2 separate regions of the Homo sapiens genome follow, and region 2 is linked to region 1. The links come from fine-mapping of genetic effects on gene expression. A gene starts in region 1. The other region holds a variant in brackets. All regions are shown on one strand. Distances are from middle to middle. Region 1 holds the start of ETV7 (ETS variant transcription factor 7). Region 2 overlaps PXT1 (peroxisomal testis enriched protein 1).

Region 1 (8,768 bases):
TCCCTTGAGGGTGCATCACCTCCTCCCAGTCCCCTGTGATATCAGCCCAGTTCTGAAAATGGTCCTAGAGTCTGCACTGCCAGCTGTCCCTGCCCTGCAGCTGCGTCCCCCCATAGCTCCTGACTCACTCTGGCCTTGGGCAGACCCTCATGGCCATGGACCGGGGATGGGGAGGTGAGAATCCTCTTTTGTTCCCCATTTCCATACAGGGAAGCATAGTTGTGAATCTCCGTGAATCCCACTCCTCCATCCCAGTAGACCTCCTGACCCTTGCCACAACCCTGGACATCACGGTTGTCCTCAGAGTGGACTTTCCACTGCTTTACTACACATCTTTGTCAGGAAAATCAACACAAAAAAAGTGAGCTCTACAGGAAAATAACTTCCGTGCTCCTCTTAGCATCAACTCACAAGGCTAAACAAGATCTGTTTTGTTTATTCACTTCCTGCTGAGGCAAATCAGTCCTGACTACTAAAATGGAGGTTGGAGGTAGGGGAGGGAATGGGGTGGGTGACGGGGAATAAACATCAGAGAGATGGGCAGAGATGGAAACCCAGCTTCCAGAAATTTAGGAAACTGGGCTGAGATCACCCCCAACAGGGCTGAAAAGTCGAATCTTCATTTGGTGTCAGCAGTTTGCTTGTTTGGGATGCTGTTGACAGGAAAATGAGTCATTTGTCATCCCCTATCTTTTAAAACTGTCAGGTATTTACTAAGGGCCAGAACTGTATTGTCTGAATATTTGCAGATGTTCCAATAAATATGAGTCATGGAATCTAAGATGACAGGTATAGAAGATGCTGCTGGGGCCCTGCCCATAGGCCCTGCCTCTCACCTCCACACTCTGAAGGCTGCCGAATGCCCCATCTGACTCTGCCTTGGGCTTTTTCTGGCTGCAGGAACCCCTTAGCCAGTGTACAGGGTAACTTGGAAATGCTGGAGAGCCAATACCCCTGGAAACAGCATTCATGCTGTCATGGAAGGGAAGTGAGTGGATAATCCCCTTACCCACTGGTTGGAATAACTTAGGATTCACTGTCCCCAGAGATCCCCGTGGTGCTAACTGGACCAAAAGAACACCTTTGGGATTTCCTTCTCTTCTCTGTCTTTCCTCCCTACTCCTCACCAGTGTTTTAGGGTCTGCTCCTGGGGAAATCTAACCCAAGGCAACAGAACTGGTAGCTCAGGAGTTCTAATCTAGGAGAAAATAGGCCACGGTGACCTGCACCCTGAGTTATGCAATCAGAGAATAGGCTGCCTCAAGAGGGGAGGAAATGCCTGTCCCTAGAAGTGTGCAGGAAGATCTGGTGACCATCTCAGAAGGGCCCACAGAAGTGATCCTGCATTGTTTGGAGGTCCTGGTGTTCTTGATGAAGATCCCTAGTCATTCATTCATTAATTCATTCAATAGATATTTAGTGAGCCTCTGAGCTTAGGAAGTTTGGTCTTAGGGAAATAGGATTTCCCAGGGCTCAGAGGAGAGTTGTGGGTCTTGTGTTTGAACCTCACTATTAGAAAGTGTTTCTTAGAAGTTGTGTTAAAATTTCTAACCTTGGCCGGGTGCGGTGGCCCACACCTGTCATCCCAGCATTTTGGGAGGCCGAGGCGGGTGGATCACAAGGTCAGGAGTTCAAAACCAGCCAGGCCAATATGGTGAAACCCCATCTCTACTAAAAAATACAAAAATTAGCCAGGTGTGGTGGCACACACCTGTAGTTCCAGCTACTCAGGAGGCTGAGGCAGGAGAATCGCTTGAACCAGGGAGGCGGAGGTTGCAGTGAGCTGAGGTCACATCACTGCACTCCAGCTTGGGCAAGAGTGAGACTCCATCACAAACAAAAAGCTAAAGAAAACTCAGCAAAGAAACAGCAAACAGAGGGAAGGTAAGTTAATCTTGGCACCTGGCAAAAATTAAATTTTTAATTGACAAATTATAAATAATAATTGTATATATTTATGCAATACAAAGTTATGGTATGAGATATATATAAAATTTTGGCCAGACACAGTGGCTCATGCCTGTGATCCCAGCACTTTGGGAAGCCGAGATGGGAGGATTACTTGAGCCCAGGAGTTTGAGAACAACCTGGGCAACATAGAGCAACCCTGTCTCTTATTTAAAAAAAAATTTAATTTTAAGGGCCAGGTATAGTGGTTCAGACCTGTAATCCCAGCACTTTGAGAGGCAGAGGCGAGAGGATAGCTTGAGCCCAAGAGTTCAAGACCAACCTGGGCAACATACTGAGATTCCCATTTCTACTAAAAATTTTAAAATTAGCCAGTGTGCCTGTAGTCCCAGCTATTGGAGAGGCTGAGGTGGGAGGATTACTTGAACCCAGGAGCTGGAAGTTGAAGGTGCAGTGAGCTATGATTACACCACTGCACTCTAGCCTAAGTAAGCAACAGAGCAAGACCCTGGATCTAAAACAAAATAAAAATTTACTTTTAAAAACTCAGCTTTTCTCCTCCCCTCTACTTACGGAGTCTTCCTGGCAGCTTGCAGATCCCCCCTTCACCCAGCAGGTTAATTTGAGCTTCACATCTGGCTTGCACGTGGGTGCCTAGGGGAGGCATGGCTGCCACAGGGCTTATAGGAGAAATAGCCAATTCTCCCTCCTAGAGAGAGAAAAACCAGGACAGTCAAAGAAGAGCATCTTGGTGAAGGCTCAGCCATCTTTAAATGTCTTAAGAATTTTTTTGGAAGGGAAAGAGTGTTTATCTCCACCAGAAGACTGCATCAACCTTAAAGGTAGGAACCATGTATATCTTCAACTCAGTACCATCAACATTTTGTACCCAGTGGACACAATAAATGACATCCTTCCAATTCAAGCTTTCCATGCATGTGCCTAACTCCAAGAGGGATCCCCTGCCAAGACTTGTATGATTGAAATCTGAAAGCCTAGGAATCCTCACTGGATCCCTGGTGAGGACAACACAGGAAACCTGAGGGGCCAGGATCAAAAGACCTTAAATCAGAAATAAACAAATAGACCAGGTGCGGTGGCTCACACCTATAATCTCAACACTTTGGGAGTCTGGGGCGGGTGGATTACTTGAGGTCAGGAGTTTGAGACCAGCCTGACCAACATAGTGAAACATTATCTCTACGAAAAATACAAAAATTAGCCGTGCGTGGTGACCGGCGCCTGTAATCCCAGCTACTCAGGAGGCTGAGGCAGGAGAATCACTTGAACCCGGGAAGCGGAAGTTGGAGTGAGCCAAGATCACGCCACTGCACTCCAGCCTGGGCAAGAGAGCAAGACTCCGTCTCAGAACAAACAAACACTATTTTCAAAAGAGAAAAAGAAAGGATAAGGATACATTTCTGAATCCTAAGGTCTCACCACGGGAAGCCTGTATCTTTACAATTCAACAATCAGCATGGCCCCCAGAGATGACGGGGTTCATCCATTCAGATGAGAAAATGAAGAAAGTGGCAGGATTTTGTAGGAATAGGAAGCTCCTTCGGGCTCATGCCCAGCCACAGGCTGCCACAGCACGGAAAGGAAAAGTGAAACCAGCTCCATCAAGTCATTTTTCACTCTAGGATTGTCAAAAGCTTTACATTCATCTCTTGGGATCCGAGGAGAGATATCTGCCGAGAGAGAATTTGGATCGGAGCCAGCAAAGCAAACTCCAGAAGCCTTGGCTGCTGCGAAAGGGGATTCAACACCTTTCCGGGTCGTTCTCACTTCATTTCCAGCCGGTCCCCCTTTGGTGCTGTTTCCCAAGTAATCAGACCTCAGGGGTTGCCTCCTGGTGGGGAAAGGGAAGCTTGCCTTGCTGGAGAAGGGGCTCAAGGCACAGGACTTGCCTCGGACTTGCCAAGGAGGCTTGCAGGAGGCTCTTTGTCTACTCCTCTGTCCTCATCCAAGTAAGAGGAGCGGGGAATTCCGAGGCTGTAACTGCCTGGGAAACGCCAGCCACGGAGCTGCTGAGGATCAGACTCCTGGGTTTCAGCATGGAGGCCAGGGAAGGGTCTGATAATGGGTATGGGTCCTGGCGAGAGGGGAGTGGAGAAAGGCCTTGGAGTGGGACGGGGCGCCAGCTCTGGGGGCAGTCTCGAGGCACCTAGAAAACCGGCGAGTGGGGAGAGGCTGCTAAAGAGGGGCTCCCTGCGAGAATGCGTTCACCAGCTGTGAGGACCTGGCTGGCGCACGAACTTCCAAAGACCTCACATCTGGTTGGTGTAGGGGCGACCAGTGGTAAGGGGGCTGCGGAAAGGGCCCGCAGGGGCTGTGCGTGATGCCTTCAGAGCTGTGTATGACACCGAGAGAGTCAGGGGCGGTGACCCGCGTCTGGAGGTGGAAGGGGAAGTGAGTGAGGGATGGATGTGAGGTTTAGGAATGTGTTGGAAAGAGAGATTCCCGCCAGGTAAAAGGTCTGATAAAATAGGTTTGGAAATCTAGGTGGTGAGGAAAGGATGCGGGAGCAGGTGGCTCTGCGTGCGCGCTGCGTGTTCAGCCGCCAGGCTCTTACCTGCATTACAGGTGGAGGTGAGGAAGCCACCGGCTTTCTGTCTTGAGCGCTCCCCTGGCTGTGGCTGCTGGGGCCCTAGGCCCGCGCCCCGCAGTCCTCCTCCGCCAAACCCCTAACCTGGCTCCGAGAACTGGAAGGTCGCGTGGGAGGAAATCTCTTTCGAGAAGCGCCAAGGCGTGTGCGCCCGGGTCCTCCGCAGGCGGGCAGGCGCGCGAGGCGCTCCGGTAATCGCTATCCTTCCGGGAAACGAAAACGAAAGAGCGGGATGCGGTTCCACTTGCGCCGCTGCGGGCTAGGAGCAGGGCAGGGCAGGGCAGGGGCCGGCCCCGTGGGAGCGCAGCACCGGGGCGCTGCCCGCTCGCTAGCCTGGGAGGCGTGGGTCCTGCACACAGCCTCCAGCCGGCGGACAGTCCCTCTGGCGACCTGGCCTTGGCTCCCACTGGGGCAGAGCCGGGATTCTGCAGGATCTGAGGATCTAAGGGGACCCCTAGTCCTGAACTCGGAACCAACTGCGTCTCTCACGGTCCCGAGCCCAGGACCAGGAAGGACCCTGTGAGTCTCCGCACATAGGATAGGAAGGGGCCTCGCATGGTGCCTCTCCCTTTAGGGGTGAGTGACCTTCCCGGCCCCGATACTGTCTCGGCCTGCCGTTTGGCCCCGCTGAGGCCCCACAGGTCCGGAACCGTCGCACCACCATCAGAGCGGCTGTGCTCTCCTGAGCAGGGCCAGACTACTCGGAGATCCCGACTGACACCTTTTCCTGGGCCTCTGGGTGCTCCGGGGTTGGTGCCTGCCCACCCATCACCCTTTCCATCTGTCTCAGCTCCCCCTGTCTCAAGAGAGGTTGTGCGCATAAAAACAAACCAGAAGACACCGAAGAAAAGGAAAGAAAAGCATTAACAACCTTCTGCTGAAAATCTGAGGGTGTAGACGCTGTTACAAAGTAGGCTTAGCACTGGTATATCATCACAAGCTCTAGGCCAGCAATAAGAAACCAGTAAGAACAAGGCCAGAAACCCAGTAGGAAAAAAAAATGAGCAAAGGATATGAATAAACAGTCCACATAAAAGGAAATGCCAAATGGCTCCTGAATATACAAAAAGATGCCCAGGGTGCAGTGGCTCATGCCTGTAATCCCAGCACTTTGGGATGCCAAGGTGGGAGGATCGCTTGAGCCCAGGAGTTGGACACCAGTCTGAACAACATGGTGAGATCCTGTCTTTACTGAAAATTTAAAAAATTAGCCGGGCATGGTGGGGCTACACCTGTAGCCCCAGCTATTCAGGAGGCTGAGGATGGAAGATCGCTTGAGCCTGAGAGTTGGAGGCTGCAGTGAGCCGTGACTGTGCCACTGCACTCCAGCCTGGGCAGCAGAGAAAGAAAAAGATGCTCAGACAAACTCACTATTTTAAATGTGCAAATTAAAGTTATTCTGAGATAGAAATTTTTACCCATAAATTTGGCAAAAATTTAAAAGTTTACTAACATAATCTGCTGGAAAAGCTGAGGTAAAGTGGTGCAACCCCACAGCGGGGTCTGGCAAATTTACAAATGCATTTTCCTTTCACCCAGCAATCTGCCTACCAGAAATTTATTCAACAAATATCCAAAGTATACATAGTTACTTATTTAATCATGGTTTATAATAGCAAAGTATGAGAAATAACTCAGGTGTCCACAAAAGGAGGCTTGATAAACTAATGCACATTCATTTCTTTTAATTTTAATTTTCTATTTTTTTTTTTTTTTTAGAGACAGGGTCTCACTCTGTCGCCCAGGCTGGAGTGCAGTGGTGCCATCAAAGCCCACCTTAACCTCCAACTCCTGGGCTCCAGTGATCTCCCACCTCAGCTCCCAAATCACTGGGATTACAGATGTGAGCCACCACACCCAGCCAAATTATGTACATTCATTTAACTGAATACAATACAACACTTTATGGAGTTCTCTGTGGATCATGGCAAGCTCTCCAAGAGGCAGTATGGCATAGTGGATAATAATCTAGACTTAGGAACACCTGCCTGGTTTGGAATCCCAGCCATGTCATTTACTGGCTGTGTGCCCTTGAGCAAGTTTGTGTTAACCACTCTACTGCCTCCCTCTACTAACTACTGCCTCAATTTTTTAACAGTAAAAAAGAGCAAATAATAATACCTATCCCATAAGGTTGTTATGAATAAGTAAGTTAACTTTTATAAAACACCCAGAACAGTGCCTGAACACCCACGCTAAGTAAAAAAATCAAGGTACAAAACAGTGTGTATTACATGCTACCTCTTGTATGTAAATATACGTGTGTGTGTGTGTGTGTGTGTATGTATGTATGTATGTATTAATTAGTATTTATACAAAGAACCTCTGGAAGGATACATAAAAACTAATAAGCATAACTGGAATTTAGAGTAGAAAATAATAGAAAGGGTTTTTGTTGTAAACCTTTTCACATGGTTGTGATTTTTTTTTTTTTTTCTGAGATGGGGTCTTGCTCTGTCGCCAGGCTGGAGTGCAGTGGCATGATCTCGGCTCACTGCAACCTCCGCCTCCTGGGTTCAAGCGATTCTCCTGCCTCAGCCTCCCGAGTAGCTGGGACTACAGGTGCGTGCTACCACACCCACCTAATTTTTGTATTTTTAGTAGAGACAGGGTTTCACCATGCTGGCCACAATGGTCTCAATCTCTTGACCTCGTGATCTGCCCACCTCGGCCTCCCAAAGTGCTGGGATTACAGGCGTGAGCCACTGTGCCTGGCCTTGTTTTGATTTTTGAATCATATAAATAAAAACCTATTCAAAATAAATTTTAAAAAGACAGTTTTAGGGCTAGTCAGCCAGAACCTAAGTAATAATAGAAATAAATATGCACTGCCTGCGACAGACTAAAAAATGGAGACATTTCCCTTTGGAAGGACAAAGTCAATGCTATGTATAATCAAAGTCTACAAACCAATATGAGCAGGAATAAGTGGCTAGACCCTGCTGTGGGGTTCCTCCTTCAAAAAAGAAATATGCACAGGGGTTTCATGCTCAATAAAATAACAATATTTATTTCATTTTTAGAATTTTTTAAAATAACACTTCCCCTATGAAGAACTCAAGATACATATGTAAACTTTTAATTTATAACAACAAGCTTTCCTAATATTTATAATTCTTTTAAAGGAGGGGAGAGAGGGACTATGAGGTAGACAAAAAGGTAAAAGAAGAAGCATGCAGGTGAAAGAACTGCCTAACAGCGTGCAGGAGAGAATGAGTGAAATACATTCCACAGGCAAAGGGCCCACCAACCAATAATAGCAAAACCATCCAGCAATAGGAAAAGAGAAGTTTTTGCCTAGTGATAGATTCATAACTCTTTCAGGTCTTACATTCTTCTAGAAGGCAGGACTGTTGGCCAAGGACTAAGCACTCCCGATTTTAAGCAGGCATGCCTAAAAGAGGATGACAGAGCAGGGAAAGATACCTTCGAGCAGGGTCGAGTGGTATGGGAAAACACTGGAGTGGTGAAGGAAGACTTGAAGGGGGTCACAGAGGAGTGAGGGGATCAAAGGTGAGAAAAGAACGTAAATGTTGTAGAATCAGAGCCTGAGAAGGAAACACCCAACGGTGCTAGTGGTAGTAGTGGGGCCTCTAGGCATGGAAATGGGAAGGTAGATGAGATGAGCCATATGTTGAATTTGAGTATTAGAGACAAATGTTTCACTTCGATTTTCCAGAGAGGGTTGGAGCCAGGATTGGGGCAGGGAGGTGACATGTCACCGAGAAGGAGAAGCTGGCACTGCAGATCTGGACATGAGTGACAAGAGTGGAGCCAACAGGTCACCAGAGGGCATGGTGCCCAGGGAGTGGGCCAGGAGGTAGTGCCCATTTCTGTGGCCTTTAGTTTGAGGACGAGGTTCTCTTTCATTCCTGGAAGGAAATGTTCAAGGTTTCCTCACAAGGAGCCCTGGGACCATCCACAGCGCTGGTGTTTTCTGGGCAGCAAGGCTTCCTGGGGTCCTAATTACTCCTTGGGCTTTACCGTGATGTGATCGCAGACATCTCATAGCTAGCTCCTCCGAAGAGACAAATGGCTCGTGAACCCGCAGTTCTTCAACAAACTGGGTGTAGACCAACAGTGATGGGTACAAAAAGAGGGAGACGGAGAAGGGTGTTCTTCCCATCTGTCCCAGTGGGATTCATGTTTCTCAGAGGGTAAAAAGAAAACAGAACTTGACCACTTGACCTTTACTTTCCTTTTACAGCAAATGGTTGTTCCAGAAAAAATGCAGCAACACCTGAACTCTTCT
Region 2 (8,768 bases), 33 kb after region 1:
TCCCCAAAACAGAGAAGAGAAAAATATGTATTTGACCTTGATGTGCATTGTCTTTCCAGCTGGCAAGGGTCCTAAACTTGTACCTAAAGAAAAAAAAATTCATCCTATCCTTCTGTAGGAAATGGTTCAAGTTCTGTCTCAGTCACTTTCTGACTTCCTGTTCTTAGGTAAGCCTCAACTTCTCTGTGCCTCAGTTTCCCCATTTTTAAAAAGGGACCTTCTGATCATTATGACTATTAAACAACGATGTTCATAAAGTACCTACTATACAATAAATCCTGTATTATATAAATGTCAGCTACTATCACTAGACCTGGTGATAGACACTATATAGATACTATAATGTAAACCAAGTTTATTGGTTTGTAACTTTTAGAAACAACTTACGGATAGCATGGAAGAGCTGACTGTGGCTGGAGGCCAGAATGCAAATGGTAACAACTTCAAAAATGTAAGAATTAAAAAATATAGGGAACAAATAGAAGGCTCCAGAAGACTGGGTGAGAAGAAGACATGGAAGTTAGTATCTTCATCCTACAAAATGGGAGTTCATGTGATATTGCTGAACATGGATCAAATAAGAAATAGGAGTGCAAATTATTTAAGTTTATGAAGACAACAGAGAGAAGTATTAAAATAACTTAACGGCCGGGCACAGTGGCTCACGCCTGTAATCCCAGCACTTTGGGAGGCCGAGGCGGGCAGATCACCTGAGGTCAGGAGTTCGAGATCAGCCTGGCCAACAATGATGAAACCCCATCTCTACTAAAAATACAAAAATTAGCCAGGCGTGGTGGCGGGCACCTGTAATCCCAGCTACTCAGGAGGCTGAGGCAGGAAAATCGCTTGAACCCGGGAGGCAGAGGCTGCAGTGAGCCGAGATTGCGCCACTACAATTCAGCCTGGGCAACAAAGCAAGACTCCGTCTCAAAATAATAATAATAATTTAACATCAAATATGAGAAAAAGAGAGGGTGCAGTATGCGCTAAACCTCATCTGCCATGTCACGGAGTCAATGAATGATATGAGTTTGATTAACCAAGAGATAGCAGCAGGCCAGGCATGGTGGCCCACTCCTGCAATCCCAGCACTTCGAGAGGCAGTGGCAGGAGGATCGCTTGAGCCCAGGAGTTTCGGACTAGTCTGGGCAACATAGTGAGACTTCGTCTCTACAAAAAAAAAAAAAAAAAAATCAAAAACTTAGCCGGGCGTGGTGGTGTACGCCTGCAGTCCTAGCTACTTGGGAGGCTGAGGTGGGAGGATCGCTTGAGCCCAGGAGGTCAAGGCTGCAGTGAGCTGAGATTGCACCAATGCACTCCAGCCTCGGAGACACAGTGAGATCCTGTCTCAAAAAAAAAAAAAAAGAAAGAAAGAAAAAGAAAAGAAAAAAAGAGAGAGAGGAATAAATGTAAATGCACATTATTTAGAACACTGGTTTGGTTCTGAATTCTGGCTGCACAAGACAATCAGCTTGGAGGCTTAAAAAGTAATTTTGTGGGCAGGGCGCGGTGGTCATGCCTGTAATCCCAGCACTCTGGGAGGCTGAGGCGGGCGGATCACAAGGTCAGGAGATCGAGACCATCCTGGCTAACATGGTAAAACCCCGTCTCTACTAAAAATATAAAAAATTAGCCGGGCGTGGTGGCGGGCGCCTGTGGTCCCAGCTACTTGGGAGACTGAGGCAGGAGAATGGCGTGAACCCAGGAGGCGGAGGTTGCAGTGAGCTGAGATCGCACCTCTGCACTCCAGCCTGGGCGACAGAGCGAGACTCCGTCTCAAAAAAAAAAAAAAGTAAATTTGTTAGTCTGGGAATGAGAATACACATAGGTTTGTTGTTGTTGTTTGTTTTTTAAGCTCCCCAGATAATTCTAACATGCACCCAGGGTTAAGAATCACGGATCTAGAAAACTGGAAAACATGACCAATTAAGGAATTTCACTGCTAGTAATGGAATGGTGGGATGGGGTGGAGGTGAAAAGGACAGGCTGGACACTGACTTTGTATTCATTCATTTATTCATTCATTCAACAAATAGAGGGCTTTCTATGTGCCAGGTGCTGGTCCAAGCCCCTTTTCAACATAAGCTCTCTGTACTAGTTGATTTGTTTCCATGAACCTGAGTTGCTTTGATTTAAAAAAAATTAATGCAACAAAAATACAGCATCAGTATACAAATCCACACTTTTAAATACATTGGGCAACTAGTGAGAACCACTTCTGCTGAGTGGAAAAGGCAGCCACCTACACAGAGTGATAGAGATTGAAAAAAAATCACCTTTCACCATGGGCAGCGAGGCTGCAAGCTGACTGGGAGAAGATAAAGGGAAGAGTGCCTGAGGGCACTGGAGAGTACCGACTCACTTCCACCGTTACACTCCCACTCTCCTCCAGAGGCCACTGAGCCACAGCTGCCAGCTGGGTTCAAAGTTCTCTGACAGTAATGGTCCCCAAAACTGCAGGATCCCATGACAGAGTAAAGAGTGGCAGGGGGGAGATAGTGTGGGGCAGGGAGGGCCAGGGCATTAATTCACCACAGCCAAGGGTAAGTCCCTAAGTCGGTGGCTTACGGCCTTCTGATCAAAATTGCAACCCTATTGCCTGTAATTTCAGTTTTCTATAAAATTGTATCTTGAAACATACACATACTCCTGAGATCCTCACTTCAAACCATTTTGAAATAACACCCTAATGATTAGTTGACAATCACCTGAAAAAAAGTGAGGACATCAATGAGGGTTGAGAGCTCACCCAGGAGAGAAGGTGCCCAGACAGGAATCAAATGGGAAGACTGAACAAATTTCACCTACTTCCAAATGGGCTAGGCCTGCCTGTGCCAATCAAAAGCATATTGATTTGTAACTATTAGTTTAACAGAATAACTAATCATAACTAATTATCACTTGAGAAATACAAACCCTAATATCTGCATCAGGAAAGTGAAATACAAGTTGGGTAAGTTTCAATAATGGACACTGGGAGAAATGAAGGAGCTACAAGGAAACCAACAAGCCTTGGGCAGCTCAGTGATCAGGGCAGTTAGGTAGGCAAAGGGGCAGAGGAGGAAGGAGACAGGAAGGAAAGCAGTGAGTACGCCAAAAGCAAAAGCATGTTGAAACTTGACATAATGATTATTTATATTTTGTGCCTGTCTAAACAACTAAATGGTGAAATCCTTGAGGGCATGTATCTATTTCATAACTCTAAGACCTAGCTCAGTGCCCTATACATAGGAAGTACTCAATAGATATTTGTTGATTAGGTTAGGGTTGTATGAAAAAGGCTGGCTACTCTGTAGCTTTATCTAAAAACAGCATTACCTTTCCATTTGTCTTGAAGTCAGCTCTCCTTTCATTTAAAGTTGTAAAACAGCAACAATAATGCACATTCATGTATTTAAAGCTCCCGGTTTAGAACCAGGCGAAATATTTGGCCTTTGATCAGCAATGGTCCCCAAATCTCCAAGACCCTACAACAGAGTCAAGAGTGGGAGGGAGAAGATAGTGTGGGAAGAGAGGGCCAGGGTCTCAATGCATTGATTCACCTCAGCCAAGAGTAAGCTCCTAAGTAGGTGGGTTTAGGGCTAGGCTTTTCACTGTACATCTTTTCATTTATTTATTTTTCTAAACAAGAAAATCTATTTTTTAAGCAAACACTTATATAGCACTTACAACATGTCAGCCACTGTTGTAAAAGCCTGGAGATACTCTCACAATTGCTGGTGGGAATTTAGATTGGTACAACCTATGTAGGGAGCAATGTTATCTATCTATCTATCAATCAAATTTTACAAACAGAAATATGTTTAAGGTTATCTGTTGCAGCATTGGTTTCAATATTAAGTAATTGGAAACAGCCCAAGTGTAAGTCAGTAGGGAACAGTTTAAATAAATTATGGTATATCCACACAATGGAATACTATGCCACTGTAAAAAACAATGAGGAAGTTATTTAAGCATTAATGCAGAAGGATCTCCAAATCATATTAAGTGACAAAGCAAGTAAGAATCATGTGCTTAATATGATACTTTTCATCCAAAAATAGGAACAAAAGTCCATATTCACAATTGTCCATGCTTGTATAAAGAAATTCTGGAAAGATACCTGAGAATCTAAGAACAATAGTTGCCTAAGATAGGGAACTGGGGGAGTGAGAACTGAGCAGATGGGGGACAAGAATGAAAGAGAGAGTCTTCACTGTATGCCTTTTCATATTCTTTATTTTTCTAGCCAAGAAAATATATTTTTTAAGCAAACATATAGCACTTA[C/A]AACGTGCTATAAAATTAAAATTGGTAAGTCACTTATTATTAATTCATAAATACTTATTCAAAATTTAAATTTAAAAGTATCTCAGGGCCAGGCGTGGTGACTCACACTTGTAATCCCAGCACTTTGGGAGTCCAAGGTGGGCGGATCACCTGAGGTCAGGAGTTTGAGAATAGCCTGGCCAACATGGTGAAACCCCATCCCTACTAAAAATACAAAAAAATTAGCCGGGCATGGTGGTGTGCGCCTGTAATCCCAGCTACTGGGAAGGCTGAGGCAAGAGGATCGCTTGAACCCGGGAGGCGGAGGTTGCAGCGAGCCAAGATTGTGCCACTGCACTCCAGCTTGGGCGACAGATAGAGACTCCGTCTCAAAAAAAAAAAAAAAAGTATCTCGGAAGTGTCATAATTGTATTGTGGTTATGCAGAAAAATATCCTTGTTCTTAGGATAAAGCAAATGGGGCAAAATTAAAAAACAACAACAACAACGACAAAAAAAAACCAAGGCCAGGTGTGGCTGACGCCTGTAACCCCAACACTTTGGAAGGACAAGGCAGGATCATTGAGCCCAGGAGTTAAGATGAGCCTGGGTAACAAAGTGAGATGCTGTCTCTACAAAAAACAAAAAATTAGCTGGGCCTGATGATGCATACCTATGGTCCCAGCTACTTGGGAGGCTGAGGCAGGAAGACCACTTGAGCCCAGGAGTTCGAGGCTGCCATGAGCTATGATCGCGCCACTGCACTTCAGCCTGAGCAACTGAGTAAGACCCTGTCTCAAAAAAAGCAAAGCAAAACAAAACTGATTAATCTGTGGGAAGGGTTTACGAATAACCACAGAGTTAATTTTGCCACTTTTCTGTAGATTTAAAATTTTCCAAGACAAATATTAGGGGAGAAAAAGTATCTCAGGAAAGTTTTTAAAACTTAAATAGAACTTTTTAATTTCTACAAACTTTTAAAAATATTTTAGAGAGTGTGTTTTGCTACATTGCCCAGGCTGATCTCAAACTCCTGGGCTCAAGCAATCCTCCCATCTCAGCCTCTGGAATAGCTGGGATTACAGAGGCAAGCCGCTGCACTAGCTTAGTTTCTACAAACTTTTTAGACTGGTTTTCAAAGCCCTTGGAATGTATTTCAACTGATTGGTCCAACCTCCTTACTCTTCTTTTAGAACCCTATGCTCTAACTAAATTGTATCTTTATCTGACCAAATCTTACCTCAATGATTTTTGAAAATTACTTTCTCTAAGATGCCTTTTTTGAGTCTTCCAAAATCATGTGATCTCTCACTACTTTGTCTACAGCACTTTTAGTTCTATTGAGATATATCATATCCTACGATTTGTTACAGTCATTGTATATTTTTCTTATACAAAACAACAGAGATAATGCATATTAGACTGTATATTAATATGTATTGTATATTAAATGTATATTGATATGTATATTAGATATGTATACTTACCTATTGAATAACACTGTCTTTAACAATCATTGTAGGTTACAACCAGGCACTCCCTAAGAACTTGGAATTAAGAGAACAAATGTCTCCTGAGAACTAAGGGGCAAGATTAATGTATGTATAGTGGAAATGGGTGAGATGGGCAGTAATTGGAAGGGGAGAGGCTCCCAGTTCTCCCTTGCACAAGCTGCTCCCTCTGTCTGCAACCTCCATCCCCCTTAACCCCTTCAGGTCTCATGTCAGGGGTTGCATCTTGAGGGAAGCCTTCTCTGATCTCCCTGCTAGGTCAAATCCCCCATTATGACATCTAGACCTCTCCTTAGCACTTATCACATTATATTTAACATTGATATGTGCAATTAACTACTGTCTGCTTCCTTTACCAGACCATACGCTCCATGACTGAAGGAACTGGTACTGTTTTTATTTATCACTGTCATCTCAGTACCTAGCACAGTGCCTGGAATATAGTAGGTTCTAGAATTTCTGGAATGAATGAACGAATTAAAAAAGAAAATGTATATCTAGAGGAGGAAGGGTTGGTGAGCCATCGAGGCAAAAAATTAAAAAAAGCAAAAGCAAAGCTTCCAAGCACTCTTAAAGAGAAAAATAAGCTAAACTGTACTCTCTATTGAATTCTACAATTATATTTCCCATTTATACTACTTACACACACATGCACACGCATTTATTTATTTAGCCCTTTCCCATCAGTAATTATTACACTTCTGCCCCTTGTCAAATCACTCCATTCCCGCACAGCAATGGTGGGCAGGGCCTCCTTTTGCTTTTACTCATCTTTGTTTCCCCAGGAGTTTCTAATTTCCCTTAAATGATGTGTATCAGGATGGTTGCTCTGGACTTCCCACGACCCTCAACTCTTCTAAGAAAATGTGGCTTTGAATTCCCCATACAAAAATTATGTATTTTCCCCCGAAGAGTTATGTTTGTATGTGTAGAGCGCCCCCAAAGAGATAAATCTTGGCTTCAGCGAGTCACATTCCTGCCTTGTGGTTTCCATTTTCAGTCTGTCTGTGTCACAGCCCCGGACAGAAGCCACTGAGGGGAGAGGTGGACCTCCTCAATCTCCTGCTTCCTCAGTAAGAGTTTTCCTCTGGACAGTACTTAGGCATTTTCTCAGGCTCCCCGCCAGAGAGCGCCGCCAGGTCCTCGGAACCACCTCGCGCACTTTAGCTGGGCGCGCGACCCGCGCAACCAGTGAGAACCCCGCTCCCGCCCTAGGCTTTCTGTGGTGGAAAAAGCGCGCGCGCGGACGAGCAGGTTAGGCGATAGAGGTCACGTGGGCCAGCTGTGGCCAATGGGGAGCGCACATGGCGACGCGGCCGGCGGCGGCGCGCGCGTAGCTCGCCTCGGGCTCCTGGCGGGAGCGGGAGTTAGGGAGGCCGGGTTCCCGAATTACACACACCAGCGTTATTTATTCTATCAGTCTTTGGTTACTCTATCTGGCGTTCTCGACGCCGTAATAACAAGTTCGTGCCCCCTCACACCGCCCCCTCATTCCGCACATCCCTCATTTCTTCAGTGGTATCATAAAGATGAAGGGGAGAAACGCGCTGCTGCCTGAACAGAAAGGCAACCCAGGTGTCCTGGGCCAGAAGTGGGAGGACATGGGAGACAGCACTTTATTGGAAGATCCCTGGTTTCTAATTGTTTGGCAGGCGTTGAAAGCACATTGGTGGCCCACCAGACTACCAGTCACTAATGAGATTTGACATATAACTCGCGTATGGTAAAACGGGAGTTCTAGGCATGAAAACAAGCATGTACGTTAGCTAGTGGGTTGTTAACTCTAAATCAAGGGCAGCAGCGTTAGTAACTTCACCTGCCTCTTCTTTTGAAGTGAAACTGTAATTAGGAAAGCATTTGAGGCAAAAGTAGCAACGCCCACAGAACGCCTCGGAAGACAGCGATCAGCTTCACAAGGAATCTGAGGATCAGGAGGTAGAGTGTGAAAACATACTGGAAAGAGTTTACAATAAAACATAAAATCTTAGAATAGTGGCGACGATTGCACAACGTTGTGAGTATACTAAAACCCTCTGTCCGTACACTTTAAAAGGGTGAACTTTATGTTAAGTGAATTACGTCTCTTAAAAAAAATTACAAGTTCCTAGAAGGTGTTCATAGGTGACACAATCTCAGACTTTGGGGAATAATTGTTGTTGACAACGGAATTAACAAATGAAGATTCAGGCGGAGCGCGGTGGCTCACGCCTGTAATCCCAGCACTTTGGGAGACCGAGGCGGGCAGATCACGAGGTCAGGAGATCAAGACCATCCTGGCTAACACGGTGAAACCCCGTCTCTACTAAAAATACAAAAATGAGCCGGGCGTGGTGGCGGGCGCCTGTAGTCCCAGCTACTCGGGAGGCTGAGGCAGGAGAATGGCGTGAACCTGGGAGGCGGAGCTACAGTGAGCCGAGATCGCGCCACTGCACTCCAGCCTGGGTGACAGTGCGAGACTCCGTCTCAAAAAAACAAAAACAAATACAAAAACAGATGAAGATTCAAAATTTCAGTCAATTCAGTGCTTTCTAAAAAATGGATACCAGGCCGGTCGCGGTGGCTCACACCTGTAATCCCAGTACTTTGGGAGGCCGAGGCGGGCGGATGACTTGAGGTCAGGAGTCCAGCCTGGCCAACACGGTGAAACCCCCGGCTCTACTAAAAATACAAAAATTAGCCGGGCATGCAGTGAACCGAGACTGTACCACTGCACTCCAACCTGGGCGACAAAGTGAGACTCTATCTCAAAAAAAAAATCTGGTGTGGTGGCAAGCAACTATCAGGATGCTTGAAATTTCCCTTTCTCAAGTGGCATGTAATTCTTTTAAAATTAGATATTAGGTTGAAGTTAATGTTCATAATCCCTCTCAGGTATCTAGCATATTTTTTATCTAAAAGCCTAAAACCTCATAAATTTACCTAACACTGTCCTTTAATGCTCTTCAAAACATAAAACTTTAATTTTCCAGCATTCTGGGGCATTTAGGAATCACACATTTTTGCAAAGCAAAA

Evidence for each region.
Region 2: its variant is fine-mapped to the expression of ETV7 in whole blood (INTERVAL, PIP 0.96).

The regions. Positions count from the first base shown.
Region 1 is chr6:36,383,053-36,391,820 of GRCh38, forward strand. It overlaps ETV7 (ETS variant transcription factor 7), which reads right to left and starts at 4,617. Exons shown (of 8, transcript NM_016135.4): 1 at 4,484-4,617; 2 at 2,482-2,617. The coding sequence starts at 4,489. PXT1 (peroxisomal testis enriched protein 1) reads right to left here. Exons shown (of 5, transcript NM_152990.4): 5 at 7,499-8,768. The coding sequence ends at 8,718. It overlaps ETV7-AS1 (ETV7 and PTX1 antisense RNA 1), which reads left to right and starts at 3,568. Exons shown (of 2, transcript XR_926758.3): 1 at 3,568-3,878; 2 at 8,724-8,768. RefSeq lists an enhancer at 3,688-4,511 and a silencer at 4,638-4,847.
Region 2 is chr6:36,416,418-36,425,185 of GRCh38, forward strand. The region is part of intron 3 of PXT1 (peroxisomal testis enriched protein 1); the gene reads right to left. Among named protein-coding and RNA genes, the nearest start is that of PXT1, 22 kb to the right of the region's middle. The variant C/A (reference allele first, on the strand shown) is at 4,268.